Linked DNA regions of Homo sapiens. The protein of the gene in region 1 purifies or fractionates together with the protein of each later gene. This does not show direct contact. Each region holds a gene or a part of one and is shown on either strand. Other genes may lie near its edges. The genes, in order: RFX3, MINDY3, CC2D1B, NUP155, FOXJ3, CFAP20 and VPS45.

Region 1 (3,981 bases):
TTACTGCTGAACACATTATCTAGACTGGAATCTCAGACGTTCCCATCTGAGGACATGTAGGGCTTTGAGCAAGAGATTTCTTTTCCTAGCAGAAAGTTTATTTCTCTAAGTTTCCTGGTACATTTCCATGGTGTTGTAATCACTGAGTTGGGTTGAAGGTAGTTGTAACAGGGAGTTTCCACAAACTAAAGTCTTTATTACTTTCTTTTCTTTTGTCACAGAAGCATATACAAACACATACACACACATATTTGCAGAATATGAAGAAGAAAGCCTAGGAAAAACCTAGATGATACCTGTAGAAAGACCATTTTAGCAGAAACTGCCTGGCGGCTTTAGGAAAACTGGGTCTTCCTTCATAGGGTTTCAGTGCTTGCATCATCACATTGTCAAGCCACGCAGCCCACTGCTCCAGGGTGCTCTGCTGCTGAAGAGTCATCTTGAAGTCTGTTTCTAGTCTCTGAACCATGTTGTCATCACACTGGCACACCCAGGAAGCCTGCTCCTGAGACAGTAACACAGAAAGAAAAGGAAAAGTTCAATTCAGCATCCTTTCATTGAATGCCAGCACACACACTAGATGCAAGAACAGAAAATTATAATAAAAGCTTCACACAGTTAAATGAATCCAGAAAATAAAAAACTACTTGTCAATTGTTAGGGTAACACAATCTTTATCAGTTTTAAGGGATGAGTATTTCTCGTTGCTCACTCTGGTACACAGAAAAGTGATGACACATGTAAGTATCATTTGGTTTTTCTACATTAACTAGTCTGTGTAAAAGACTAAAATACATGATGACTTCAAAAAATAGAAGTCTGAACCTACAGTAGGCAGGGTCTTTCATCCTATTCAGCTTTCATACTGCTTTCAGAAGTTGTCTTTTTGTTCCCCATCAGATAAAACTTTAAAACCAATTTATTTGAGAAGATTTAGGGTAAGTCAGACAGATAAATAGATAAAATTGGCCAAAAGAGGTCCCCTCAAGATTAAAACAGAAACAAACACTAAATGATACTAGGTAGAAGCATATGCTGCTGTGAGTTATATGGATTGGGAACAGAAATCTCAAGGGCTATCAAGGCAAGGCTATGAATGCAAATTAATTCAGAGAAATGAAAACCACAATAACAACAACAACAAAAACTCTTGAGAAAATGTAGACGTGCTTCCTGCCAAAAAATGTGATTATTGCAATTTTCCTTCTGGTTCTGGTTGGGAAATGTTTGGTAACAGCAATGAAAATAGGAACTTTTAAGGCTACTTTTCAGTGATTGCCATAAGTACTGTGATGTTTCCAGTGCTATGTTGTATTTTAAGATTTAAAAAAACCTATTCACTCAAGGCAAAACATAATTCTTTGGTAACGTAATATTTGACTGGGAATGAGAAGACATAGGTGTTAGGTCCTGAATAAACAAAACTAACCTCAAGCAATTAATTTATGTGGGCCTCAGTTTCCCTAAGCATAAAATTAAAGAAATGAAATTTAATGAAAAATTTTAAGCTGGGTTCATTGTGTCCAGATAATTTTGTCAAGATAGATTTCTTTGGAGAAGTGTCTGTGAGGCTCCTAATAAAACCTTGTGAATACATATGTATTTTTCTCAAAAGAGTGTCTATAGCTTCTTTTTCTATATGCTCTCAAAAAACAAGTTCATTCAAATTAACAACTTCAACTGAATAAATCCATTATCTCCATCTTCTAGTTCCAGTATCTCTCCTGATCCTACAGACTTTACCTATTCAAGGGACATTTCAACCTGAAGGCACTTCAAATGCAAAATGCCCCAAACTCAACTTATTTTATTTTCCCAGGGAAACCTACTGTTTCTTCTATATCTCAGCTGATGATACTATTCACTGTCTTTTTTCCTCTTATCTAATTAATCATAAATCCATTCAGATGTTACCTTCTGAATACCACTTTTAAATATTTTAAGTATACTAAAATATCATTATAGAAAAAACTGTGAATACAAATAAGCAAAAAAGGAACAAAACATTAAGAATACTTAAAATGGCAACAGTAAGAAATTACAGCATATTGATGTATGTACCTTTCAAACTTTTCACATGCATATAGAAATAATTTATGCATATATCATCATATATATACACTATATTATTTATGCATACATTTATATTTTAAATATATATTTGTATTATAAAACACATATATCTACACATACATTTTATATTATTATATGCTTATACATACTTAAATGTTTAAAATAAAAGAGGATCATATTATATTTTCTATTAGATATTCTGCTTAGTTTCACTTAGAAATATTTAATAACCATCTTTCCATGTAGGCAAATTAGACCTATCTTCATTGTCCACTGAATGAATTTGTTTTATTGCATCATATACTATTATTTACATAACCAATCCCACATAGTTAGACATTTGTTTGTTCCAACATTTTAGTATTACAAATAAAGCTGAAATTAGCAGGAGAGGTTTTTTTTGTTTGTTTGCACGTTGATAATTGGAAGGAGAAACTTACTAGTATCCATGAAGGAATTTAATTTCATTTCTTACCATAAATTCAAACTCACTATTTACTTGGCAGTTAGTTTTTGCCAAGAAAAGATGATAATCTAAAACCTAACTTAGAGAAATAAAACCACAGCACATTATTCTGGCTTTTCAAACTACTTTATATTATACTTCATTTTACTACTCTCTAAAGTGAAAATATACTAACAATAGAGCGCATTGTAAATATTCCCTTGTGAAACGAATGTAGATATTTCAAGTCTATAATTAAAAAAGCTAAGGACACTTAGAGATGTTCTTAAATTAGAAAAAAAAAATATCCAAAATGAAAAGTAGTCAGGAACTTCAAAATCAGAATGCCTTTTAAATACAGAAACACAACTATATGCAATAGCTAAGTTATCAGGTCAGCCCACCGAAAGCTATTTAGCCCATAATGTAGATCTCAAAAACCACCATTTACACAAAAAATTAGAGAATTATGCCATCGTAATACTATCAATTAAATGAAACAGGAAACCAGTTATACTGCAATAGAAAAATTATCTTAAATGCATAAAGAAAAGAAAATTTAATTAGAGGAGAATGAAGTAGTGAAAAGTGATATATGGATATCCTGAAAGGAACTTTTTAGCACTTTCAAGCTCTTAAGTGTATTATAATATTGACACACATGTAATTTCATTGTTTTAAATAGAAGTCTCCTTATTACAAGAGCATCATTCTTATATTGTCAGATTATTGAGGTTCATGTTATAGAAGCTGGGACGACTTCCAAATGAACTGGAGATGGGGATAAAGGTAAAATGGGAGGCAAGGGACTCTGGGAAAATCTGGCAAAACTAGGAAAAGAAAAGGAAAGAAATAAGGGTGTTAAAGAGGAAAAGTGCTACCTTGAGAAAGAGATTACTCATTAATATGTACAGAGCTGTGAAAAGTAAAATGTAGGGGGAAATGAAGGGCTCACTACTGTGTCATGGTACTCTGAAGAAAGGAAGAAGGTTTTGGAGGGCAGATGCCGAATCATATGGGTTTCAGGAGTAATGGCTATCATGGTGGACCCAGAAAAACATGATAGTCAAAAATAGAGGAAAAGAAAGGGTATTCTTAAAGTTGGCAGGTAGAGGATAAGTCGTACAGTAGACATATCACTGATCATTAATATGCAAAAATGTTCCCAAGGTTAATGCTTATAACCAGGGAAGAACTCATTTGTAGAAATACTTCATTGGAATGCAGATACACAAATATATATATATGTATTTATACATATAATAATGCTAACAGAACACTGAAAAACTTTTTCGGATATTATTATAAATAATTCTTTAAAATGTTTTCTGTTACTGAGTTTAAATTACTTTCTGAAACTAGAAGCTGCCTTACTTCTTCAACTCTTCTTAAGAGACTTTTAAACAAATCTTTTCTGAAAAAAGATTTGAAATAAATATTACAGTATAGATTTTAAGGCAATA
Region 2 (3,981 bases), on another chromosome or scaffold:
GGTATGAGCCACCTCACGAGGCCCAGTAAACATTTATTTAATCAGCCACAAATAAATGAAGTTGCAAAACTGGAGTGACAAGGACAGCCAGGAAAATATTTAACTTCGGTAATCTTTACAATGCTTCAAGTAGGTCCTGTGGAAGAACACTTATTTGCTATGATGTAGAGGCTGATGCAGGAAGAAAAAAGTGGTAATATTTATAAGCTTTTCAAGACCATTCGTTTAAATAAGAATAGCAGAAGCAGCTCCCCTTTCCCAAGCACATACTCTCCATCAGGCACTGTGTGCCTTCCAAACACCATACTATTATCTTCCCCATTTTGACAATGAGGAAATTGAGGATTAGAGAACTTAAGACGATTGTTGAAGGTCATACACTAGGTATCTTAGTAGCTGATTCAGGAATTTTTTGACAATGAGGAAATTGAAGATTAGAGAACTTAAGACAATTGTTTAAGGTCATACACTAGGTATTTTAGTAGCTGATTCAGAAATCCAATATAGTCTGTCTAACCACAGAGTCTATGCACTTTACCAGTGGGCTACACTACTTTTTGTTGGTATTTCTGTATTTTATGCCAGTTAATTACTGGAAATAGGGAATATAAATTATATTCAGTTACAGGAAAATGGTTATTTAAGTTCAAATAATTTAACTCTGATAGCCAAGAGTCAAATTATGTAACTAATTGCAATGACTCCTGTAATTAAGGAAACGATCAAATTGATTTTTCTATTTTCTGTAAGGCATTTTGAGTGGGATACAAAACAATTTTAGGCTTTAGTTGGGAATGTAAGACATGAAAAATTAAACAGTCTTTCAAAATAATAGAAGAGATGATACAAAGTAGTACTATATGATTCCTTCTCAAATTATTTAGACAATTGTTATGATAAAGGTTAAGTTCCAGTGTAGTAAAAAACTAACTAGTGTGTCCAGGAAAAACTTTACAGAAAAAGTAAGATTTAAACCAGGTCTGGAAAAAGGAAGGAGAGGAGGGCATTTTAGAGAAGAGTAAAAAAAAATCATGAATGTGCAAAAGGCCAACAAAAGATCTTTTCATGATGAAATGAGTCATGCTTGTCCAAAACAGAATTCAGAAAGGTGAGTAGTTGGAGATAAGACTAAAAAGGTAGATTAAGCCCTGTATGATTTTAAGACTCATGATTGCAGGTCACAGAACCTCAGCCTAAATTGGCATAAGTGAGGGGGAAAATACATGAAGGGGAAGGAGTAGCTCAGGTGAATTGAAGAAGCAAGCACCGGGAAAGTGCTCCTGGAGTCCTTGAACAGCACTGGGAGGTCTCCACCTCCCATCCCCTGTCTCTAAAGTGGCTACATTCTCACAGCCTATCTTTCTGTAGGAGCTGAAGCTCCAGTTGCCAGCAGCTGTCTTCCCTTAATTCCAGTTGGAAAAAATTCTAAGGAGGGCCATGTGCCTGTTTGTATCCATCGGATATGGCCAGGAAGACAAGGGGGATCTATCCAGGCAGACTCAGCCAGGGGCCCTGAGGGAAATCACTGGGAGCCAGGCCTGTAATGGCCTTGAACGCCAGGTTAAGAGGGTTGAACGTGATCTTTAGCTAATTGAAAAGCAAGGTTAAGATAGTGGGAATAACATGACCCATTTTTCTACAAGCTTACTCTGTTAGTGATATATAGGATATCCTTTCTTTATTGAATATTACTGAAATCGCCTTAAGCATTATAAGTATGTTTTCATTTCTCACAGTGCTCTTTTCACTAATTAATGGTTGACAATATTCAAATATTGGATATTTTTTGGAAAAGAAACCACTAATTAAACATCGTGGGCCAAATTGGAAGTATTGGTACATACTGGAAGTGTATTTAGTCTGAGTAAAAGTGATGCTACTGCTTTTCTCAATTCATTGAGAGGAACAAATTATTTACATAGAAAAGGAGATATACTTTAGCAAATGTTTTAGAAGCTTGTCTTTTGAAAAAAGTTATAGTGATACATGCACATAATTAAAAAAAAAATAAGTTAGTTCTGAAGAGCTTATAATGGAAATCAACCTTCCCTACTTTCCAGCATCTTCTTCAGAGGCAACACTTTCAACTTCAGGGCTTTCTGGTAGTTACAACTCCATAAACCTAAGTTCCTTCTTTTGTCAAATGAGTCCCCAGTCAAAGGATAAGGATTTGAGAAACATGCATTTTACTTTCAGTTGATTAGAAATTGCCTGATATAAATATAATTTAAAGTGTTAATAGTCCTTTATTTATAATAGGGCTCCAGTGGTCCAGAATCTTTTACTGTCTACCACTACAATGGATTGAAGCAGTCAAATTATAATGAAAAGGTATGATAATTCACGTAGTCGTCGGTGTTCAACTGGGTTGATGAAATAATTATGTGAGTATGTAACAATGTTCGATTCCCGTACAATTGCTACCTAAGATTATTCCAGGAGTCTCTTTACTATGAGGACACATTTTAGAATCAGCCATCTTTGGATTTGACCAGTATATGTTAGTCTGCATTGGAAACTGACATTGGACTTCAGAGCAGTAGTTTCACCATGACTAAATACACCCCCATACAGATCGTTACCCTTGGCAGTGTAGCGTGTTTCTAAATCAACATCGTAGTTAGTCCAGTGAAAGTTGTTACTTATCCATTTAAAGGAAGAAAGAGGTAACAGTGAGACTTTTTACTGGAAAAAATATTTTTAAATAAATAACCTTCATAGTCAGCATATATTGAGCATTTACCCGAAATTGTATTAAGTACTTTGCTTAAGTTTCACAGCACCTTATGAAGGAAGTGTTGTCTGTATATCTCCATTTTACAGGTCAAGCAGCCAGGAAATGACAGAGCTGGGAGTGAAACTTAGTCCAGCTCAGAGACCATGCTCCTACCCATGATGCTTTGCAGCTTTCCTTTGCTAACCGTTGACAAAGCACATAGGTGATTCACTGCCAGGTGTACTCAACCTGGCGTAAAGCTAGAGTTCGGCTGCATTGATTTCCCCTTTTTGTGTGTCTATTATCTTTGCATTTATTCAAGTATGAGTTACAGTACATACTAGTTATAGTATATATATATATATATAATATATATGTATTAGTTATAGCTAATATTAAAGGAATAAGGTCTAACATTCCTTTTTAATTTGATCTGCCCATGCTGACTTCATGTATCTAAATTGTGGAAGGTTACAGAAAACAGTGTAAATTAAGTACATAATTTTAATTAGACCAAATCTAAAAGACTAAAATTTACTGCTATCTTTATAACAAAATATAAATTAGATGTTTTTGTCAGGTCCAAAGATATATATATACAGCATCCAAATTTTCTTGACAATGTATATTCTTTGCATGTATATATATATGCAAACTTGGATGTTGTTTTCTAATGTGCGAATGAGTGCTTCATCTAGAGTTTGATGTTTGCACAGCTTTGTAATAGGAGGTACTTTATAATCACTAATTATTCACCTACACAATCCCTGCAAGATAGGTCAAATATTATCCATATTTTACAGATGAGGCATCTGAGACGGGGAGATCAAGTGACTCACCCAGGGTCACACAGCAAGTCATTGGCAGAACAGGGATTGGAACTGAGTTCCTGATTCCCAATCCTGTCCTTGGTCTGCTTGGCCACTCTACCTGTATGTAGTATAAGTTTTCAAATCATGTTTGTGACAAGCTTCTGACACACCAACAAAAAGATTAGAAAACAAATAGGATGAACTGTTAAAATGACAGTAATATACAGCAGCTATAAAGCAAAGTATGGATGTCATTAAGTCACAGAAATATGTTTTGAAGTTAATCAGGAGCTAAAATTATAAGCTGCATAGCAAGGTCCTGTTAGAAAGGAAACAGACAAAAGGAGAATGCTGGCAAAGTGAGATGGAGTCTGAGCCGCCAGGCATCCGAGCCTGATTGAGGCCATGGAGGTGGGTCATGGCACCTTGCCCAAGCACTTCTGCTCTAATGAC
Region 3 (3,981 bases), on another chromosome or scaffold:
GCAGAGCTGGTATGCAGACCTTGATCTCTGACTTCTGGTCCAGAGCTCTTTCCACAGCACCCAGACAGCTGTGCGCTCTCCACTAGCATGCACCCTGTCGTCCTCAGCAGCCCCAGTGCCCACAGCGGGGCCAGGCTTGGGAAGCCTCACTAAAGGGGTAGCAGTCTCTGGCCTGGGCTCCCAGCCTCCTGCCCCTCCCTGCCTGGAGCCCCTGTTTCCCTAGGCCTTGGTACCTCACAGTCTGGAATGTCTTCAACTCAAAGTGGTGGGTGGGAGGGTCGAGGCCCTGAGCCTGGGCCAGCTGCAGGATCTCCAGCTGTTTCTTGCGGTCCTGAGCAAGCTTCTCAAATCTGACAGGGATGGGTATGTCAGCATGATGGTGGATTTTCTGCTCCCCACCCTATGAGCCCAGCCCCAGCCCTTGCACTTACCGGGTGGTCTCAGCCACGTTGCCCTGGTGCATGAACTGCTTGGAGAACAGCAGGCACTTCTGAAAATAGAGGCCCAGAGTGACTCCCGAGCCCAGAGCAGGACCTGCCTTGGTTGGCATTCAAGGCTAGACTTCTCAAAGCTTCAACTTTCCTCTGTAGCCTCACCTCTCTCCTCCCACAACACAGCCCCAAGGGCACTACTCCCAAGTCCCACCACGTTTCTCTGCCTACACTTTTGTCATTTTCTCTTCTGAGGAGAGCCATTCCCCAAATTAGCAACTCCTTCCATCAAAACCTAACTCAAACATCCCCTCAGAAGGCAGCCTTTCCAGAACAGGTGGCAGTTCAGATAGATAAATACATAAACATACACGCACATCACAATGTTCTTTCCCTCTTCTCTGTTGTTTGTACCACCCTGAAAGGGGTATTATCACCCCATCTCATAGATGAGGAAAATGTAGTTCAGAGAAGAAAGTGCCTTGCCCAAGTCACACAGTGAGTAAGTGGAAGAGCTGAGAATTTTGAGTCCAGGGCTGTGTGGTCTGAGCTCCAGGTCTTCCTCCACGGGGAGGCTGTGGGCACAGAGGGGAGGAACAGACGAGGGGCCTGCTGACCTCTTGTTGCTCCAGAAGCATTTTTTGCAGCTGGGCATACACCTCCTCCGCCTTCTGGGAGAGTCGCAGGTCCTCATGGTGGATGAGGATGAAGTCACCCTCCTCATCCGTCAAGGGCGAAGGCACCTACCCAGGTCACAAGGCCCCTCGGGCCCCAAGAGTCAGATTACTCCTCTACCAAGTCCAACAAAGGCAGGAGCCCAAACTAAGTAATTCTTCAGCTTCTACTAAAGTCCAGTGATGACAACTCATCGCCTCCCATTCTATCCCAAAATAACACTCTTGCCTCCCATGGCCTGGCCCAGCCTTGTCATCTCTGACCACAGGCAGCCCACCTTCCCTTCTCCTGGTTTCCTTTGGGGCCGTGAGGTAGAGGAGTATGAGCAAAAGGCTCTTTCCCAGCTGTCATCATGCTCTGTCCAAACCCTGCCTCATCCCAGAAGCTGCCCTTGTTCACAGCCTGTCAAGCCTGCCAGCCGCCACCTCCGCCTGAGAAGTCCTGGTGGTTAACCAGGTGGGACTCACCTTGGACAGATCAACAGGTCTGCCAGATCGGGCCTGGATGATCTGAGCCTCAAGCCATTTGGCTACCCGCAGATAGGCTTTGGCCTGCTCCAGGTCCTGGCTGCGCTTGGCCTGCAGGGCTGCCCGCTGATACTGCAGTTTCCGTGCCTCCAGCAGTGCCAGCTGCTCCCGCACTGAAGGGAGAAGGCCACTGGTTAGGGCCACACCTGCCCTCTCTAGGCCCTCAGTTCTTCACCCTGCTTGTCCCCAACTCACCAGATGGACTCGGTGACTCCTTAGAACTTGAGGCCCTGGGCTCAGGCAGGCGCTGGGATGAAGGGACTGTGGGCCGTGCAGGTTTCTTGGCCACTGGGGCCTGTGCTGGGGGCTCACCCTGCAGGTGCCCAGGAGGCTGTTAGGAGGGGATGTGTTCCCTAGCATAGTCATGGCGGCTCCCAGACTTGGGCTGTCTTCCTAACACTGTACTACATCGCTGTGTGACCTGAGATGGGTGGCTTCTCTTCCTGGGTCCTAAAAGATCTGAGAGCTAGAAGCAGCCTCAGAAGCTCTCACATCTAACCTCCCCAGCAGGAGAGAGACTGCAGGGTAATGGGGATGGAGCCGGGGCTCTGGGTTCAGAAAGACCTTGGTTTGAATCCTAGTTCTGCTATTTCCTAGCTGGGTGTCCTTGGGCAAGTTTTTTCTCTGTACAGTGGAGGAAAGAATATGTACCTTATTGGGCTTGTTAGTATGGACAACAGGGTCTGGGTTTACCCCTCACCTGCTATTCTCCCCACCAGCCCTGGAGTTGAGCCCTCAACCAAACCTCGTCCTCGTCTTTATCAGCCGGGGCTGAATCCTCTGCAGAGGCCAGTTTCTCTGCAGCTGCCAATGTCGCTGCCACTGCGTCCTCCTCAACACCCATAGTGGACTCCAGGCCAGGGATGGGGGGAAATCCTGTGGGAGAGAGACAGCATGGGAGGGGCAGGGAGCAGCCTCAGAGAAGCACAAAGCTACCCGGGGCCCTGTCTGGGGCATGGCTCTGCTGGGGCATGGCTGGGATGGATGGCTCCACAGAGGGGAGGCAGACGCATGAGAAGTGGGAATCACTGGCTGTCCCCCATTCCCTTCTTGCCCAGGGACCACCTCCTCACAGAGCCCCTAGGCCATGCCCCACTTACCTGGAGGAACAGGCAATTCAGCAAAGTTGACTTTCCGTCCTGCTCGGTGTGCTCGAATAGCATCTTGATATTGCTGCAAGGGAAGGAAGGGAGGGGCCTGTGGTCGGCAGCAGCCCACAGGCCCCCTGCCCAACATGACACACAGTGGGGCAAGGAGAGGGAGACTGGTGGGAAGACAGCAGCCCTGGGAGAAAAAAAGATCCCTAAGGCAGCAAGAGCCCCAGAGAGACAAACAGATGATGGTTCAGAAAAGACAAGGACTAGCCGGAGGACCAGGGAGACAGAGCACCCAGCCAGGGAAGAGGCCAGCACAGGCAGGGGCTGCATAGCCGCGGGCCCACCTTGGCAATGCGCTCATGCATCCGAGCCTTGCGCTCGTCCCCACCACTCCGGGCCTGGATGCCCGCCTCGCGGTACTTGTTCAGCCTCTGCTGCAGGGCATCCAGCACTGTCTGTGACTCTGTAGGGGCCACTTGAAGGAAAGAAGGAAGAAGTGGGCATCAGGTCAGCCTGCCCTCCAATGCCTGCAGGTCCCCACGCCACAGTCCCACCATCCTGCCCTACCTGGGGTTGCTGGGACGTCAGGGGCCATCACTGGCTGCACTCGCTCCACGGCTGGGGGAATGACTGAGGGTGCTGTGGGAGCCTGAGAAGCCTGCTGGGGCTTCAGATCTGGGGGACCCAGAGTAGAGGTGTAGGTGGGAGGGCCTGGCCAGCCCCAGGCCTGCTACTCCTCCCCAACCCCACCGCAGCCTGAGAAGATACATACTGACCCTCAGGTGCCGGGGGCATGGCACTCAGATCCACGGGCTGCCCCTTCTCCAGGGCCTCCAGGACAGCACCGAATCTCTGCAGAAGTTGGAAAAGCAGGTGTGGGTGAAAGACAGGGGACCCCAAGAGCCTGGGCTGAAACAACCCCCACTTAGGCCAATCTCACTCAATCTCAGTCTAGCTCCCTTTCTGAGCCTGTTTCCCCTATCTATAAAATGAGGGTGGGTGCCCTGAGCCAGATGCCATACCTTCCCAATCCTCATGAGCTCTCGGGCACGGTCTAGCTCTCCAGCCCGCTTGGCACTGAGGGCAGCCACTTTGTACTCTCTCTGTCGGGATGACAGCAGGGCCCGCGGGTCTGGGTCTAAGTCTGAAACGGGCTGGGCAGAAATGCCAGGGAGGCTGGTCTCAGGTTGGGAGGGGTTGTCTATAAGGAAACAAACAGTCCCCAGAGAGCACATGAGGGTCACAGAAGAA
Region 4 (3,981 bases), on another chromosome or scaffold:
AGGCCGAGTGAAAGGACGTAGGAATGTGGTATCATTGTGTTGCAATATTTGATGACTACACTGACCTGCAGAAGCTGTAATGTTCTTTCTATTTTTTGAAATGTACTTTTTTTTTTTTTTTTTTTTTTTTTTGAGAGTCTCGCTCTGTCAGCCAGGCTGGAGTGCAGTGGCACGATCTCAGCTCACTGCATCCTCTGCCTCCCAGGTTCCAGCAATTCTCCTGCCTCAGCCTCCCGGGTAGCTGGTATTACAGGCGCACGCCACCACGCCCAGCTAATTTTTTATTTTTTTATTTTTTTATTTTTTTTATTTTGAGACAGAGTCTTGCTCTGTCACCCAGGCTGAAGTGCAGTGGTGCGATCTCAGCTCACTGCAAGCTCTGCCTCCCAGGTTCACGCCATTCTGCCTCAGCCTCCCAAGTAGCTGGGACTACAGGCGCCTGCCACCATGCCCGGCTAATTTTTTTGTATTTTTAGTAGAGATGGGTTTCACCATGTTAGCCAGGATGGTCTCAATCTCCTGACCTCATGATCCACCCACCTCAGCCTCCCAAAGCGCTGGGATTACAGGTGTGAGCCACCGCGCCCGGCCATTGCCCAGCTAATTTTTGTATTTTTAGTAGAGGTGGGGTTTTACCATGTTAGCCAGGGTGGTCTCGATCTCCTGACCTCAGGTGATCCACCCATCTCAGCCTCTCAAAGTGCTAGGATTACAGACATGAGCCACTGCGCCCAGCCGAAATGTATAACTTTTTAGCATTAGAGTTTCAGTTCTTGTCCAGTTCAATTACTGTATGTTTTACATTGCTTTCTGGATTACATTTATTTTTCAGATATTTAAAATTTTTTATTGAGTTTTAAGGTATAATCTGCTTACTTTTTAAAAAATTACTTTAAATCAAATCTAACATAATGTAAAGGCCATAACTATTTGCACAGGTATTATTTTGAATCCCAAGGTATTTTTTTCCCCCCAGTAGGGAACTAAAACTTTCCTTTTTGTTATTTGAAATAGGATCTTTTTTTTCCAATGAAGAAATATATATATATATATATTTTTTTTTTTCCTTTTTCTTTTTTTTTTTGTGAGACAGAGTCTTGTTCTGTCACCCAGGCTGGAGTGCAATGGTGCAATCTCAGCTCACTACAACCTCTGCCTCGCTAGTTCAAGTGATTCTCCTGCCTCAGCCTTTTGAGTAGCTGGGATTACAGGCGCATGCCACCAGGCCCAGCTAATTTTTGTATTTTTAGTAGAGGTGGGGTTTCACCATGTTGGTCAGGCTGGTCTCGAACCCCTGACCTTGTGATCTGCCCCCTCTCAGCCTCCCAAAGTGCTGGGATTACAGGCGTGAGCCACCACACCTGGCCCCCAATGAAGAAATATATTTAACAGTTGCCTTTTAGGCATATTAAGACCTTTTCCTTCTGAAGACCTATCAGAAATATTTTATGTTAGCAGGGTGACTATTGTACAGTAGAGACATAACCTTGATCATTATTTTCATGTGCCAGCTAAGGAAAAATGTATCCAACTTAGTAGTAAGTCATAGGTCTTCATTCTTTTCTTTCCCATCAGTGAGATTTTATGAGGGTGTGGTGGAACTTTCTCTTACGGCTGCAGAGAAAAAAGATCCTCAAGGTCTTGGGCTTCATTTCTATAAACATGGAGAACCAGAAGAAGACATAGTTGGACTTCAGGCCTTCCAAGAAAGGTGCATTCCATTACGTTAGCAGATTGTCATCTTTATGGATACAGACTTTTCTTTGCATAATGTTTTTTGTTTTTTGTTTTATGTTTTTTTTTTTTTTTTGAGACAGAGTCTTGCTCTGTCACCTGGGCTGGAGTGCAGTCGTGTGATCTTGGCTCACTGCAATCTCTGCCTCCCAGGTTCAAGCTATTCTCGTGCCTCAGCCTCCCATGTAGCTGGGATTACAGGTGCACACCACCACGCCTGGCTAATTTTTGTATTTTTAGTAGAGACAGGGTTTCACCATTTTGGCCAGGCTGGTCTTGAATTCCTAACCTCAAGTGATCCACCCACCTCAGTCTTGCAAAGTGCTAGGATTATAGCCATCAGCCACCGTGTCTGGCCTCTTTGTGTAAAGGTCGACCACCCAAAGTGCTGGGATTACAGGCATGAGCCACCATGTCCAGTAGGATTTCATTTTAAAGGATAATTTTTAAGTATTCCCAAATTTGTTGAGACTGTTAAAAAGGAAATGTGTGTCCTTAAAAGAAATATAGGCCAGGCACAGTGGCTCACGCCTGTAATCCCAGCACTTTGGGAGGCTGAGGTGGGCAGATCATGAGGTCAGGAGTTCGAGACCAGCCTGGCCATCATAGTGAAACCCTGTCTCTACTAAAATACAAAAATTAGCCAGGCGTGGTGGTGCACACCCGTAATCCCAGCAACTTGGGAGGCTGAGGCAGGAGAATTGCTTTAACCCGGGAGGCAGAGGCTGCAGTGAGCTGAGATTGCACCACAGAACTCCAGCCTGGGCGTCAGAGCAGGGCTCCGTCTCGGAACAAAGAAGAAATATATAACCTTTCTATAACATATATATATGGAGGGTGTTTTGTTTTGTTTTTGTTTTTGTTTTTGAGACAAAGCTTCACTCTGTCTCCTGGGCTGGAGTCAGTGGCACCATCATAGCTCACTGTACTCTTGACCTTTTGGGCTCAAGTGATCCAGTGATCCTCCTACCTCAGCCTCCTGAGTAGCTGGGACTACAGGCACATGTCACCACACTCGGCTAATTTTTTTTTTCTCTTTAATTTCTGTAGAGACAGGGCCTCACTATATTGCCCAGGCTGGTCTTTAACTCCTGGGCTCAAGCAATCCTTTCTTCTCAGCCTCCCAAAGTGCTGAGATTAGAGGTGTCAGCCACCACATCTGGCGAAAACATATTTTTTTATTACTATATTTAATGACTTTACCCTTTTAATGTTTAACCAAACACTTCTCAAACTTATTGAAAAAGTATATGGTTTGTATTATTTTAAATGCCAAATATGTACATCTATTCTGCCAAATAGTCTTGAAATCCTTGTATATACTTAGGTAAGGTAAATCAATGGCTTTCTTTTTTGTTATTTGTTTTGTTTTGTTTTTGGGGGGTTTTGTTTTTTGTTTTTGAGACAGGGCCTCATTCTGTTGCCTGAGCTGGAGTGCAGTGGCATGATAATAGCTCACTTGCAGCCTTGAATTCCTAGGCTCAAGCGATCCTCCTGCCTCTGCCTCCCAAGTAGCTGGGATTACAGGTGCACACCGCCACGCCTGGTTAATTTTTTGTTTCGTTTTGTTTTGTTTTTTGTTCGTTTGTTTTTTGAGACAGGGTCTTGCTGTCACCCAGGATGGAGTGCAGTGGCATGATCTCAGCTCACCTCAACCTCTGCCTCCCAGGTTCAAGCAATTCTTGTGCCTCACTCACCTGAATAGCTGGCACTACAGGCATGCACCACCAAGCCCGGCTAATTTTTGTATTTTTGTCAGATACGGGGTTTCACCAGGTTGGCCAGGCTGGTCTCAAATTCGTGACCTCTGGCAGTCCCCCTGCCTTCGTCTCCCAGAGTGCTGGGATTACAGGTGTGAGGCACTGTGCCCAGCCAATTTTTTTGTATTTTTTGTAGAGACGTGGTCCCGCTCTGTTGCCCTGGCTAGTCTTGAACTCCCAGCCTCAAGCCGTCCTCCTACCTTGACTTCCCTATGGCTGGCATTACAGGCGTGAGTCACCACACTTACCATCATTTGCTTTCTAGTTAAATAATGTAATTGTTCCTTTTCCATTTTCTTTCAGATTAAACAGTTACAAATGCATTACAGACACACTTCAAGAACTGGTAAATCAAAGTAAGGCCGCTCCTCAGTCTCCCAGTGTACCCAAAAAACCTGGTCCTCCAGTGTTGTCATCTGATCCAAATATGCTGAGTAATGAAGAAGCAGGACATCATGTAAGGGACATAGTATATTTTCATTCTGAG
Region 5 (4,680 bases), on another chromosome or scaffold:
TAAGGTTAAGCAACTTGCCCAAAGTCCCTTCTGATTTTAATACCTTATTATGAAGATTTAATGAATTAAACAAACGTAGGCGCTTAGAATACCTGTCATACAGTAAGTAAATGTTAGCTATTATTTTATTCCTACAACCACTATCTTATATCAGACCCTCATCAGCTTATTCCTAAAATTCTCCATAAGCACTCTAATCAGTCTCTCCACTCCCAGGACACTCAGCTGAAACAAAAACCTTCCTCAGGAACAAGATGCATCATCTTACTCTCATTCTTTAGAACCCATTGTGGTACCCTATCAAACTAAACCCTCTATCCTTGAAAGATCCTCCATCAATACCCCCTCACCAATCCTAAACTCATTTATTATTATTCACCAACACAGATGATCTGACAGTCAAGCTCCTTGATATCATTTGTACATTGCCACTTCTCTCGCTTTGCACAGGCCCCTTCACTCTCCTGAAATACACCTCTTTCCCTTTGGAAATTTGTATCTTTCTCAAATGTCCCTTACACTTTTGACCTTGGTTGTACTGTTATCCCAAGGAGAAGTTTGATGCAGTTTGATAATTCTGAATGATGTACATGTTTCCCGAACAGAAAAAGAAACTCTGTTCTTTCGATATAAGTTGAAGCTTTCCAAGAGACCACGTATCTTATTCGTCTCTTCATACAGACTTCACACATAGATAACTCGGTACTTTACAGAAGTACACAAATGCTGACTTACCAAAAAAAAACAAAAAGCCTCAGTATGTATCAGAACAACATTCTCCATTTTCCACTGCCCCACCCATACTTAGCATAATGAAAAAATATAATCTAAAATCTATATTTAAATATTTTCATTCTACATAGAAGGAAAGGGAATATACGAACTGTACCAGATAAAAGGAAAAAAATGTCAAAAATATACTCAAAGAATGTACAATGTGAAAAAGTGAGAATGCAGGCCACTTTGGAATCTAGTAAGTGACTTTGAAACATTAAGTTTTTTTATTTTACCCAAACTAATGAACAAAAAAGAGCCAAAATAAACACGTTCTAGCCTCATCCAAAAAAAATCTAATGAAAGCATGAGAAACTTCCCAGTTTTGTCCTCGGCAGCACAAAACCAAGAAGATTCACCTCAATTCTGAGACACAAAAGCAAAAAGAGAAATCCTCCTATTTATCTAAGAAACTAAAAAACTTAATCACGTCTATATAATATATACCACTCAGAAAAAGAGAGGAGTTACTGCTTTTCTATAAATATTTGCTAGGGACCAGGAGGAATAGGCTTCTCTCACTGTTATTGCGGGAACAATCTGTGGTCTCAAAACAGCAAAACAGAAGATGGAAACCCTAATCTGGAAGAGACATTAAGAAAAAAACTACTCAAACCATGTTTCAAACCAGTTTCAAAAAAAGAGTGTGCAATGGGTACTCAACAGAGTAAGAGGAAAAGTGAAGTAAAAGAGCTTCTACAAAATAAGTGACTAGGTGAAACTAGTGCTGCCTTGTGAGAAAAAGAGCTATGCATATAACGCTCCTATGACATCACGCTTTTTCACTGGGAAACAAAATAGAAGGAAGAAAACACACACAAATAAATCTCAGAAAAAGACCAAAAAGGTGCCCACCAATCTCTAACTCCTTCAGGAATTAGAGTGAATGGCTCTAACTCATTCAGGAATCCAACCAGGGACAACACAGACGTGGAATGCACCAACACGGAATAGTAAAACCTTTGCTAACCAGACACACAAAAAGTAAAACAGAGAAATGAAAACTATACACCTGAATGCATCGGTAGCAAGCGCTTATTCTCTATAATTAAGCAACAGAGAAAAGAATAAGAGCAGCTAATGGAAGAGGAAAAAAGATGTTAATGAAACTAAGCCCTGTTATGTCCCCTACTGGCCTCAATTTCAGAGTACAACTCTCGATTCTTCATCTAACCAACAGCCGGCCTCGGCAAAGCAAACTGACCCTAACACCTTCCACGCCACCCGGAGGAAATCACAGAGGAAAAACCATCCCGTTAACCTCCCTCCTCACCAGCTGCAAAAATGGAGCTGGGAGGGGGGGCGGGAGACACTCTACCACGTGGGCAGGATGCAACACACACAGGACAGCAACACGTCCGCATGGAACGGCTGCCTTTGCCCTAATCCCAGCAAAGGACACAGACACAGGATGGGCGGGAACGCAAGCACCCTCGCATGGGCCTCCTCTCCCCAAAGGGCCACTCCAAGGCGTGAGGTACAGCCCGCCCTGCCGGCAGAAAAGCGCCCCCAAGCTTAAAGGGAAGAAGCCGCAGAGTGCCGGGGTCGGGGGCTAGCCCAGGCCAAGGGACAGGTCATGGAGGGAAGGAGACGGTCGCTGCCCTCGGACTAGGCGCCCCCGGGATCCACGTCTGGTTCCCCGGTGCCCCGCCTGGGGGAGGGGCGGGAGACGCGAAGCCGCTGCTTCCCAGCTGAGGGGCAGCAGCAGCTGAGAAGCGCCGCGGGGGAGGGAAGGACCCAGCCCTCGGCGTCCGCCAGGCCCCAGCCGGGGCCCAGGCCCCCTGCCCCACCCGCCGCCCACCCCGCAACGCGGCTGCGGCTGGAAGAGAGAGGGCGTCTCGCGGAGGACAGCCCCTGCCTCCGTCCCGGGAGATGCCACAGCCCCGCCTCCTCGCCCGCCGCCCAGGCCCGGCCGCCCTGGCGGGGGGCACTTACCTCAGGCTGCGCAGGCCGGGACGGCCCGGCCGAGCCCCCGGCCGCTCCGTGCGTCTCCGCCCCCCCGGGAAAGGTCCCAACGGTGCCTACTGCGAGCGGTCGAGGCCCCGAGCAGCCCCGAGAGCGGCGGCGGCAGCAAGAGCAGCCAACATCCGGGGCCGCGCACCCGGAACTACTTCCCGACCCGCATCCCCCGCCCGCCCTCGCCGCCACCGCCTCCTGCGGCGTCGCTGCGCCGCCGGCCCGGCGTCAGCGGCGTCAAGTCCCTGCGCGGTCACGGTCGCTTCGACGCACGCAGGATCCCTCCGCTGGGACAAGTAGTGCCCTGAGACTCCCGAGGCTCTGCATCGGCGCAGCCGGTGTCATCTAGCGGCCGGCAGTTCCGAGCGACTTGGGGTCCTTGTGCCTCGGAGTGGCGTCTGGGAGCAAAGGCGGCGGAGGCAACCCCGCAGTTGAGGACAGTAGGGATCGGTGGCTTTGGACCCTGCCCACGGATACCTGGGGCCCCATGCCCCGAAGGAATGGTGCCTTCTGCCCTCCCCCGCCCCCCAACATCCGCCACCTCACCGAAGCGCCCGGCACCTTAGCCTCCTCTCCAGGAAAGCGGACGCCTTTTCCGACCTGGCACACCGCGGATTCCGGGACCCCCAACAAAGGCGCCTTGGACCTTCAGGACACCCCTCTTTTCAGAACTTCATGAGTCCCAGGTGCTAGACTCATGTCTGCGGAGGCCTTTCCCGTGCCTGGTCTTTCTTTCTTTCTTAAAGGAGTTGGACCTCTAAAGGCCCTTCTAATTCTCAAGGTAGCTACCCAGGTTATGGTACTACTATCAGTAGGTGGAGCGTTTAGAAGGGTAGTTTGGTCGACGAGTGAACTTTGGAATTTACTTCTACGTCAGTCTTCACTGATTCTTTCTCTAAACTATTAGCACTGATAATCTGCCCTATAATTTCACACTTAATTACATTCCAGTGTAGTATTTGCTGTTGCTTCATTCGCGTTAGTCACATATTCCCCTGCAGCGCCAAACACGCTTTTGAACTCACAATGGGTGGCTCAATATTTGGAGACTTAGATATTTGTTAGATGAATACTAGGCTGATTGGATGAGAGGAAAAGGAGAGGCATGAGTGAATTGGCCCTGGGTACTTTTTTGACATAGTCTCAAAGGGTTCAGATAAAGACCTCCAGCAGATCTGAGCACACAATTCCTTCAGTAAACATTGAACACCTGCCGTTTGGTCAAGCATTTCTAGGCACTGGAGATTCAAAGTATTCACATATTCCTTTTCTTTATAAGACTAGCAAGATTCTGAAGATTCATGTACTCATTCACTCAACAAATATTTGCCAATCACTACTAAGGTTGCCAGACACTATTTTAGTGCTTGGGATGTATCAGTAAACAGAAGAGAGAGAGAAAACAAATACCCTTCCCTGTTGGAGCTTTCATTCTAATATAAGGAGAAAGATGATAAATGTAAGAGAATTATGTAATATGTTAGAAGGCATATGGGGAAAAAAAAATACACCAGGGTAAGGGGTATGAGGAAAACTGGAGGAAGGGGGTTTGCAATTTTTTTTTAAGAGGGAATCCTGCTCTCCCGCCCAGGCTGGAGTGCAGTGGCGCGATCTCAGCTCACTGCAACTCCCGGGTTCAAGTGATTCTCCTGCCTCAGCCTCCTAAGTAGCTGGGATTACAGGCGCGCGCTACCACACCCGGCTAATTTTTGTATTTTTAGTAGAGATGGGGTTTCACCATGTTGGCCAGGCTGGTCTCAAACTCCCGAACTCAAAAGTGATCCGCGCTCTTCGGCCTCCCAAAGTGCTGGCATTACAGGCCTGAGCCACCGCGCCTGGCCTGCAATTTTAAATAGAGCCGTCAGCATGGGCCTCATTTATAAAATGACTTTAAATCGGAGACCTGAAAGAGCTGAGGGAGTCAGCCATGCAGTTGTCTGGGGAAGAGTG
Region 6 (3,626 bases), on another chromosome or scaffold:
GTGGGTGGACAGTGTGGTTTTCAGTGCCATAGAGGTCTCAGTTTTGGTTTTCTGTCATTCGATGGCTCCCCTGGACCAGAATTGAGGTCTTCTCTCACTGGAGGAGCTTCTAAGATCCACTGTCTGGCTTTGTTTTTCAGATATTTTATTGCTGCTGTCTAGTCCTGTGTTAAGCTTTTGTTTCTGGGTCCAGCGTTTGTTAAAGCAGCCGCTGACTTAGGGCTGAGGGATTCACTGGGTGGCGTGTCTGAATCTTTTAGATCTGCTTTCCAGTGTATCCTCTTGGACCGTGTGTTATTGTTGTGCATACCACAAAGGAAGAGAGTCCAGGAGTGTGTTTATTAGTATTTCCTCTCTCTACAGCACCACATATATCACATGCCCTGCAGACCCCAAGAAGACGCTGGGAATTAAACTTCCTTTCCTTGTCATGATTATCAAAAACCTGAAGAAGTATTTTACCTTCGAAGTGCAGGTAAGTATGTGTACATGAATGTGTCCACTCTTGGCTATACCAAAGTGATAGCCTTTGAACTGATGGGAAAAAGTGACCCTACAAAGTATCTTTATCCTTTTGCATGTATTCTTTTCTGCTTCTAGTATAAGCCCAGTGCAGTCCTTGTTATGTAAATTTGATATTAGTAATAAAATTTAATCAGGTTTTTAAAGAAACAGCACCTAGAAAACCTAGTAATTTCAAAGTGTCAGAGTTAGCGTGGTATCCATTTGGGGAGTGATTATTTAATAGTGGGTGGCTGTTCTGTTTTAGTATTTCTGATTTTTCAAAAGGAAGAACATTTATATACTCTATGGTCTGAGAGCCTGCTGACTGTGTTATATGTCATAAGCAGCTGGTGTTGTCTTGGCAACAAACAAGATAAACTTGCTACTTCCGGGCCATCTGCATGCAGTGTATGACCTGTGTCTGGTCTGTTTATTTTCCTCTAAGTCTCAGCCTTGGGAAAGCAAGCTGTGGGAATTCAGGTCCTTGTCTGGACAAGGTTGTGTGCTTCTTCCAAGACAGAGCTAGTGTGATGCTTCTTCTCTGTATTTCACAGGTACTAGATGACAAGAATGTGCGTCGTCGCTTTCGGGCAAGTAACTACCAGAGCACCACCCGGGTCAAACCCTTCATCTGCACCATGCCCATGCGGCTGGATGACGGCTGGAACCAGATTCAGTTCAACTTGCTAGACTTCACACGGCGAGCATACGGCACCAATTACATCGAGACCCTCAGAGTGCAGGTACTGCTCCTTTCCCAGATAGAGCCCTGGGTTGGGGATAGGGCACACTGCGTCTAATATTGGCTTGTGGCCCACATAGCAGAACAGTGTGGGTTTCTGGCTTCAGTTGCCACACTGTCCAGGGAGCTTTGGCCTCACAAAGGTCCAGGAAATATTCAGAAGTCGGGTCAGGTATAGAGGTGAATACAGCAAGTAAGACCTCCCTCTTGCCAGAATCCATCCCTAAGACAAGCCAAGGAGATGCCGGAGATGACGCGTTTCCAGTCCTGGAAGAGGGCCTCTAGAAGATTCAGGAAAAGGGGGAGAACAGTCACATTTCGCCTCTCAAAAGAAGCATTGCCTTGACAGATCCATGCAAATTGTCGCATCCGACGGGTTTACTTCTCAGACAGACTCTACTCAGAAGATGAGCTGCCGGCAGAGTTCAAACTGTATCTCCCAGTTCAGAACAAGGCAAAGGTAAGCCAGTCTTCCCCAGAGGAAGGTCCACCAGTGAGTGGGGGGAGCTGTGTTCCTGGAAGGTGCTCTGGTCTAAGAATTCAGCTGCAGAGCCTCTCTGTGTTGACACTTTGGGGTGCCTTTATATCGCAAGATCTTAGGTCTCCTTCCAGCACTGAATCAGGAATGCTCCTGTGAAATACTCTGTTACTGCTGTTTCCCCTCTCCACGGTGAGAGGGGATGAGGCACTTCCTACTACTGGCTCACAGAACTTCAGAAAATATCTTAACTTTTTTTTTTTTTTGAGATGGAGTCTTGCCCTGTTGCCCAGGCTAGAGTGCAGTGGCACGATCTCAGCTCACTGCAACCTCTGCCTTCCAGGTTCAAGGGATTCTTGTGCCTCAGGCTCCTGAGTAGCTGGGATTACAGGCGCCTGCCACCATGCCCAACTAATTTTTAATTTTTATAGAGACGGGGTTTCACCATGCTGGCCAGGCTGGTCTCAAACTCCTGACCTCAAGTGATCCGCCTGCCTCGGCCTCCCAAACTGCTGGGATTACAGGCGTGAGCCACCGTGCCCAGCCCCATCTTAACTCTTAATCAGCCCAAAAGTATTATCAGCTGATAGGTCCCTGCTAACACAAGGGTGGGTGCTTCCCTGCCTGTGTGCTGCAGATGTGTGTCCATTCTCCACAGTCACTGTCCACTCAAGTGTCACCAGAGGCAGGGGGCCTGTGACACTGACCATCTATTTTCTAGTAACTTAAACTGATGCCACTTCTCTGTTTTTTCCCTTCAGCAATAACTGGAATTGTGACTCGAGGGATAGACCCCTGGATGTGACTCTTCTTTTTAAAAGGAAACTATGTGGAGGACGATGCAAAAACATATTTATCTTAGTTTGCTCTGCTGTAGTTCTGTTATTTATACTTGGTGTTGCTTGTCATGGACACCGGTGAACATGCCGTAACTCTGTGACTGCATTGTAAGTGCAGTGGGGGTAAGCAGTCCTGTGAGTGGCGCATGAACGCTGGAGCTTATTCCGCCGCCTGCCCCAGTGTGGGGGGAGATACCTTTACCATGAACTTACAGAATTAAAGATGGCCCATAAGGAATTCCAGACCAATATTTCTTCCTGCGGTTTATTCTATGTTTTATATATTATCTAAATATATGTATATGCTGTGTCATACTCATAATCTGGAAATGAATAAAGTGATATATTCCTGGTTTGTAAATTTGTTCCTAGTTTGTCTTTTTTCATGGTGATGTTTGTTTCCTTTGTGATATGAAAAGAGAACTATTTCCATTGAACATCTTATACATTTCATGCTGTGAAATGTCTTGTATTAAGTATCTAAAGAACAAGACATATTATGCAGCTGACCCTTGAACAACACAGGTTTGAACTGTGCGGGTCCATTTATATGAGGATTTTCTTCCACCTCTGCCACCCCTGAGACAACAAACCAGTCCCTCCTCCTCTCCCTCCACCTCCTCCTCTTCCCCTCCTCATCAATGTGAAGACAACAATGATGAAGACCTTTATGATGATCCACTTAATGAATAGTAAATATATTTTCTCTTCTTTATGATTTTCTTAATAACGTTTTCTGTAGCCTACCCTATTGTGAGAATACAAAATACAGTATGTAATTCATACAAAATATGTGTTGAATGGCTGTTTATATTATCAGTAAGGGTTCTAGTCAACAGAAGGCTATAGTAGTTAAGCTTTGGGAGAGTCAAAAGTTATACATAGATTTTTGCATAAGGGGGTCGGTGCCTCTAACCTCTGAGTTGTTCAAGGGTCAACTGTATAAACTGGTTCAGAACAACTTTGAAGACTAAATGGGAAAAAAAAAATAGTATGTGACCAGTGGAATCATCTTGCTAGGGGTTGGGTCCTAGGTTGAGCTTAAGACAGAATGACATAGTCT
Region 7 (3,981 bases), on another chromosome or scaffold:
GTTTGAATTCCGTCGGACAGAGGTTCCTCCATTGCTCCTTATTTTAGATCGCTGTGATGATGCCATCACCCCATTGCTAAACCAGGTACAAAACCCTTTCTTGGCATAATAGAAGGATAATTTTAAGTGATATTCATCAAAATACAGATAGGGAAGTAAAAACATGGTCCATTTATTTGCCTCCTTATTTTTAGCTATTCTTGGTTTTGCTTTGTATTTCCTGGTGTTTTGGTATCATGATTCTTCCATCCACTGTCATCATAACTCTTCTGCTTCATCTCTCCTGTACCTTTCTGCCAGTACCTCCACCCCTAATCAAGACAGCTTCTTAATTCTGTAGATTCTATTTCCCTGTGTTTCCTTCTGTCTCCTCATTTCCATGCTTACAGCCATTGCCTTGGTCTAGATCCTAATCTCTTGCAAGAATATTGAAATAGTCATCTACTTCGTTCCCTACTTTTTATTTCTTCTCACTCCAAATGTTCCACAAGTACAATTTCCTAAAGCACAGCTCTATCTTATTACTCTTGGCTTAAAAAACTTCATTGGTTCCCATTTGCCTACTAGGTTAAAAAGAAACTCCTGAACTTGGCATCCAAGAGCCTTCACAATGTGGGCTAAACCTCTTATAAAACCTAGAGTTCACCACTTACATAGATAATGCCACATGGTTTCCTGCCAGCATGCTTTTACTGTGACTGCTTTCTAAACTCTAGAATGTTTGGAATACCTTCTCTTCCCATCTTCACCTATCAAAATACTGCTGTTAAAACCACTCAATCTGGCCGGGCACGGTCGCTCACGCCTGTAATCCCAGCACTTTGGGAGGCCAAGGTGGCTGGATCACCTGAGGTCAAGAGTTCAAGACTAACCTGGCCAACATGGTGAAGCCCCGTCTCTACTAAAACTACAAAAAAATTAGCCGGGTGTGGTTGCACACACCTGTAGTCCCAGCTACTTGGGAGGCTGAGGCAGGAGAATCATTTGAACCCAGGAGGCGAAGGTTGCAGTAAGCTGAGATCATGCCACTGCACTCCAGCCAGGGCGACAGAGCAAGACTCCGTCTCCAAAAATAAATAAATAAATAAATAAAATGATTTATATGAATAATAGCAAAGAATAAAAAAAAGAAGAGCCGGGCGCGGTGACTCACACCTATAATCCCAGCACTTTGGGAGGTCGAGGTGGGTAGATCACCTGAGGTCCTGAGTTTGAGACCAGCCTGGCCAACATGATGAAACCCTGTCTCTACTAAAAATACAAAAAATTAGCTGGACGTGGTGGCAGATGCCTGTAATCCCAGCTACTCAGGATGCTGAGGCAGGAGAATCACTTGAACCTGGGAGGCAGAGGTTGCAGTGAACCGAGATCATGCCACTGTCCTCCAGCCTGGGCAACGAGAGCGAAACTCTTGTCTCAAAAAAAAAAAAAAACACTCAAAAGCCATCTCCAACATCCAGCCATTCTTCAACATCTCGAAGCCTGTATTCTTTCAGTCAGATATTGTTCTTATCTCCTGAAAATCCCTGTAGACTTGTAGACCTTTGTGTCTCTCTCATGTCTCATGCTGTACTTGCCATGTTGTAGCTTTGGTTGTTTACATCCTCTCCTACGTTACATATTTCTTCAAGGCAGACTGAGTCTCACCAGTGTTTTTTCTCCTTCAAGTATAAGAACAGTGCACATAGCGGGTGCTCTATTAATAGTGATTTTGTATGTGTGTATGTATTTATTGAGACAGAGTCTCTCTCTGTCACCCAGATTGGCGTGATCTCAGCTCACTGCAACCTCCGCCTCCCAGGTTCAAGCAATTCTCATGCCCCAGCTTCCTGAGTAGTTGGGATCACAGGTGCACACCCCCACACCTGGCTAATTTTTGTATTAAATATTTTTAGTACAGACAAGGTTTCTGTCTAAATATTGGCCAGGCTGGTCTCGAATTCCTGACCTCAAGTGATCTGCCCGACTCGGCCTCCCAAAGTGCTAAGATGACAGGCGTGAGCCACCACGCCCGGCTGTGACTTTGTATTTACAGAGAAAGGCACAGTCTATGTTTCAGTTTCTTCCCAGCTTGTACTAATGTTAATGCTAAGGGAAATCTGTGGAGTGAAACTTCTCTGTAGTATAAAATAGCCTTGTATTCCTAAAATTCAAAGTAATATATGTTCACCAAAGAAACTTTTGATAATATCAAAAAGTAGAAAGAAAATTAATTGCCTATTATTCTGTCTCCCAAAGAAAAGCAACTATTTATCCCACAGATTTCACTGGGGACTTCTTTTGTGCCACGTACTAAACTAAGTACTAGAGATAAAAGGTTAAAAGTTACAATTTCTGTCCTCAAAGAGCTCATGGTCCAATTATGAGAAAAATAAACATAATTTTAATTGTAGAGTAAGTGCTAGAAGCATGTACAAGAAGCTATCCATAAAAGCATAAAACATTTTGTTGTACGTTTTTTTTTTTTTGAGATGGAGTTTTGCTCTTATTGTCCAGGCTGGAGTGCAATGGTGTGATCTTGGCTCACTACAACCTCCGCCTCCTGGGTTCAAGTGATTCCCTGCCTCAGCCTCCTGAGTAGCTTGGATTACAGGCATGTGCCACCATGCTCGGCTAGTTTTGTATTTTTAGTAGAGATGGGGTTTCACCATGTTGGTCAGGCCGGTCTCGAACTCCCGACCTTAAGTGATCCACCCACCTCAGCCTCCCAAAGTGCTGGGATTACAGGCATGAGCCACCATGCCCAGCCTTGTTGTACTTATTTTAAGTGCGACTTAATGGAACTTGCTTTTTCAAGAATTCCTTTGGCAAATCTTTTAGGAAATAAGCACCTTCTTTTATAACCTTCTAAATTATTTCTTAATAAATCTAGTTTTCTTAAGATAAAATATGTATATAAATATTTCTAGCATTTAGATTCTAGATGCAGAAGGGAACATGCTAGAAAATACTTCATTTTGTCTAACAGACCTATGACTGAAAGTAATCTATTCTCCATAATTGGTGAAAAGGGAAAATTTGGAGATTTCTCATTTCCAGTTTTACCAAATAAATTCTCAATTTGTGAGACTGGAAACCAGTCCTTCCTCTCATCTCCCCTTAGGTAAAAATATAAAATAAAATGGGTTCAAAGGTAAGTTTCTGAATATCCCAGTGTTTTGATCAACTCACAAGGTTTTTCTGATAATATTAGTGTTCCCAGGACAAATATAGTACCACTCAGATCTGCAAGAACACACTTCTCATGCTGCAGAAAACCATAGAAGCATACAGGAAATGGTACAGCTTGTAACTGCAGTACCAATATAGCTCTATCTGTGAAGCCAAAAATATACTCTTAATTCACAGGCAAAAAATTGGAGCTAATAATAGCTCTAATTTGTTTTCTTTCTATCAAGAATATTAATCTTGCTGCCCTTTTTCCAAAAGTATGAAATCTAAAAGTATTTTGACTTTTCTTCAGTGTTTAATCAATTAAAATGACAGTCTTAATGCTTATAGCACAAAGTATGAATAAAATTTAACTCGAGAATCTTCATGTAAAGAAGACTAGTTAAAGAATGTTATCAGTTTTTATTTGTTTTCCTGAACGTTTACTATTTCCATATTCTGTCAGTTACCTTTTTTTTTCATAATTCTTTATTTAGTGGACATATCAGGCCATGGTCCACGAACTACTAGGCATAAACAACAATCGGATTGATCTTTCCAGAGTGCCGGGAATCAGTAAAGACTTAAGAGAAGTGGTCCTATCTGCTGAAAATGATGAATTCTATGCTAATGTAGGTGGTTTAAATTTTTTTAAATTGTCTTTAGTTGTTTTTATGTAAGAAGATCAATATTGGCTTGTTAGTATAGGGGCAGGCATGGGATTTCATGTGAAAGGATGATAGGGGCATCCTGTGCATAAACTGCCTCTGAAGGGAAGGCAGAAGACTTGGATTCTGACCCTTTAGCAATTTTTTTTCATAGAGATCACGT

The links.
Region 2: the proteins of RFX3 (region 1) and MINDY3 purify together in Homo sapiens (affinity purification with mass spectrometry; one large-scale study listed by BioGRID and IntAct). This does not show direct contact.
Region 3: the proteins of RFX3 (region 1) and CC2D1B purify together in Homo sapiens (co-immunoprecipitation; one large-scale study listed by IntAct). This does not show direct contact.
Region 4: the proteins of RFX3 (region 1) and NUP155 purify together in Homo sapiens (affinity purification with mass spectrometry, with the first as the bait; one large-scale study listed by BioGRID). This does not show direct contact.
Region 5: the proteins of RFX3 (region 1) and FOXJ3 purify together in Homo sapiens (affinity purification with mass spectrometry, with the first as the bait; one large-scale study listed by BioGRID). This does not show direct contact.
Region 6: the proteins of RFX3 (region 1) and CFAP20 purify together in Homo sapiens (affinity purification with mass spectrometry, with the first as the bait; one large-scale study listed by BioGRID). This does not show direct contact.
Region 7: the proteins of RFX3 (region 1) and VPS45 purify together in Homo sapiens (affinity purification with mass spectrometry; 2 studies listed by BioGRID and IntAct, with this or other methods). This does not show direct contact.

What each region holds. Positions count from the first base shown.
Region 1 is NC_000009.12:3,256,695-3,260,675, forward strand, and holds part of RFX3 (transcription factor RFX3), read right to left. Parts: intron 506-3,981; coding exon 297-505; intron 1-296. UniProt on the Homo sapiens protein: Transcription factor required for ciliogenesis and islet cell differentiation during endocrine pancreas development. Essential for the differentiation of nodal monocilia and left-right asymmetry specification during embryogenesis.
Region 2 is NC_000010.11:15,780,505-15,784,485, reverse strand, and holds part of MINDY3 (ubiquitin carboxyl-terminal hydrolase MINDY-3), read left to right. Parts: exon of another isoform or gene 1-2,252; intron 2,253-2,259; coding exon 2,260-2,331; intron 2,332-3,519; coding exon of another isoform or gene 3,520-3,609; exon of another isoform or gene 3,610-3,981. UniProt on the Homo sapiens protein: Hydrolase that can remove 'Lys-48'-linked conjugated ubiquitin from proteins.
Region 3 is NC_000001.11:52,355,953-52,359,933, forward strand, and holds part of CC2D1B (coiled-coil and C2 domain-containing protein 1B), read right to left. Parts: intron 3,932-3,981; coding exon 3,753-3,931; intron 3,583-3,752; coding exon 3,507-3,582; intron 3,406-3,506; coding exon 3,298-3,405; intron 3,206-3,297; coding exon 3,075-3,205; intron 2,807-3,074; coding exon 2,734-2,806; intron 2,510-2,733; coding exon 2,379-2,509; intron 1,965-2,378; coding exon of another isoform or gene 1,947-1,964; coding exon 1,829-1,946; intron 1,747-1,828; coding exon 1,574-1,746; intron 1,175-1,573; coding exon 1,049-1,174; intron 491-1,048; coding exon 432-490; intron 351-431; coding exon 234-350; intron 1-233. UniProt on the Homo sapiens protein: Transcription factor that binds specifically to the DRE (dual repressor element) and represses HTR1A gene transcription in neuronal cells.
Region 4 is NC_000005.10:37,305,027-37,309,007, reverse strand, and holds part of NUP155 (nuclear pore complex protein Nup155), read left to right. Parts: intron 1-1,575; coding exon 1,576-1,711; intron 1,712-3,797; coding exon 3,798-3,951; intron 3,952-3,981.
Region 5 is NC_000001.11:42,332,350-42,337,029, forward strand, and holds the start of FOXJ3 (forkhead box protein J3), read right to left. Parts: upstream 2,887-4,680; 5' UTR 2,710-2,886; intron 2,607-2,709; exon of another isoform or gene 1-2,606.
Region 6 is NC_000016.10:58,112,890-58,116,515, reverse strand, and holds the end of CFAP20 (cilia- and flagella-associated protein 20), read left to right. Parts: intron 1-363; coding exon 364-475; intron 476-1,058; coding exon 1,059-1,247; intron 1,248-1,460; exon of another isoform or gene 1,461-1,595; coding exon 1,596-1,706; intron 1,707-2,485; coding exon 2,486-2,491; 3' UTR 2,492-2,924; downstream 2,925-3,626. UniProt on the Homo sapiens protein: Cilium- and flagellum-specific protein that plays a role in axonemal structure organization and motility. Microtubule inner protein (MIP) part of the dynein-decorated doublet microtubules (DMTs) in cilia axoneme, which is required for motile cilia beating.
Region 7 is NC_000001.11:150,077,695-150,081,675, forward strand, and holds part of VPS45 (vacuolar protein sorting-associated protein 45), read left to right. Parts: coding exon 1-85; intron 86-3,647; coding exon 3,648-3,782; intron 3,783-3,981. UniProt on the Homo sapiens protein: May play a role in vesicle-mediated protein trafficking from the Golgi stack through the trans-Golgi network.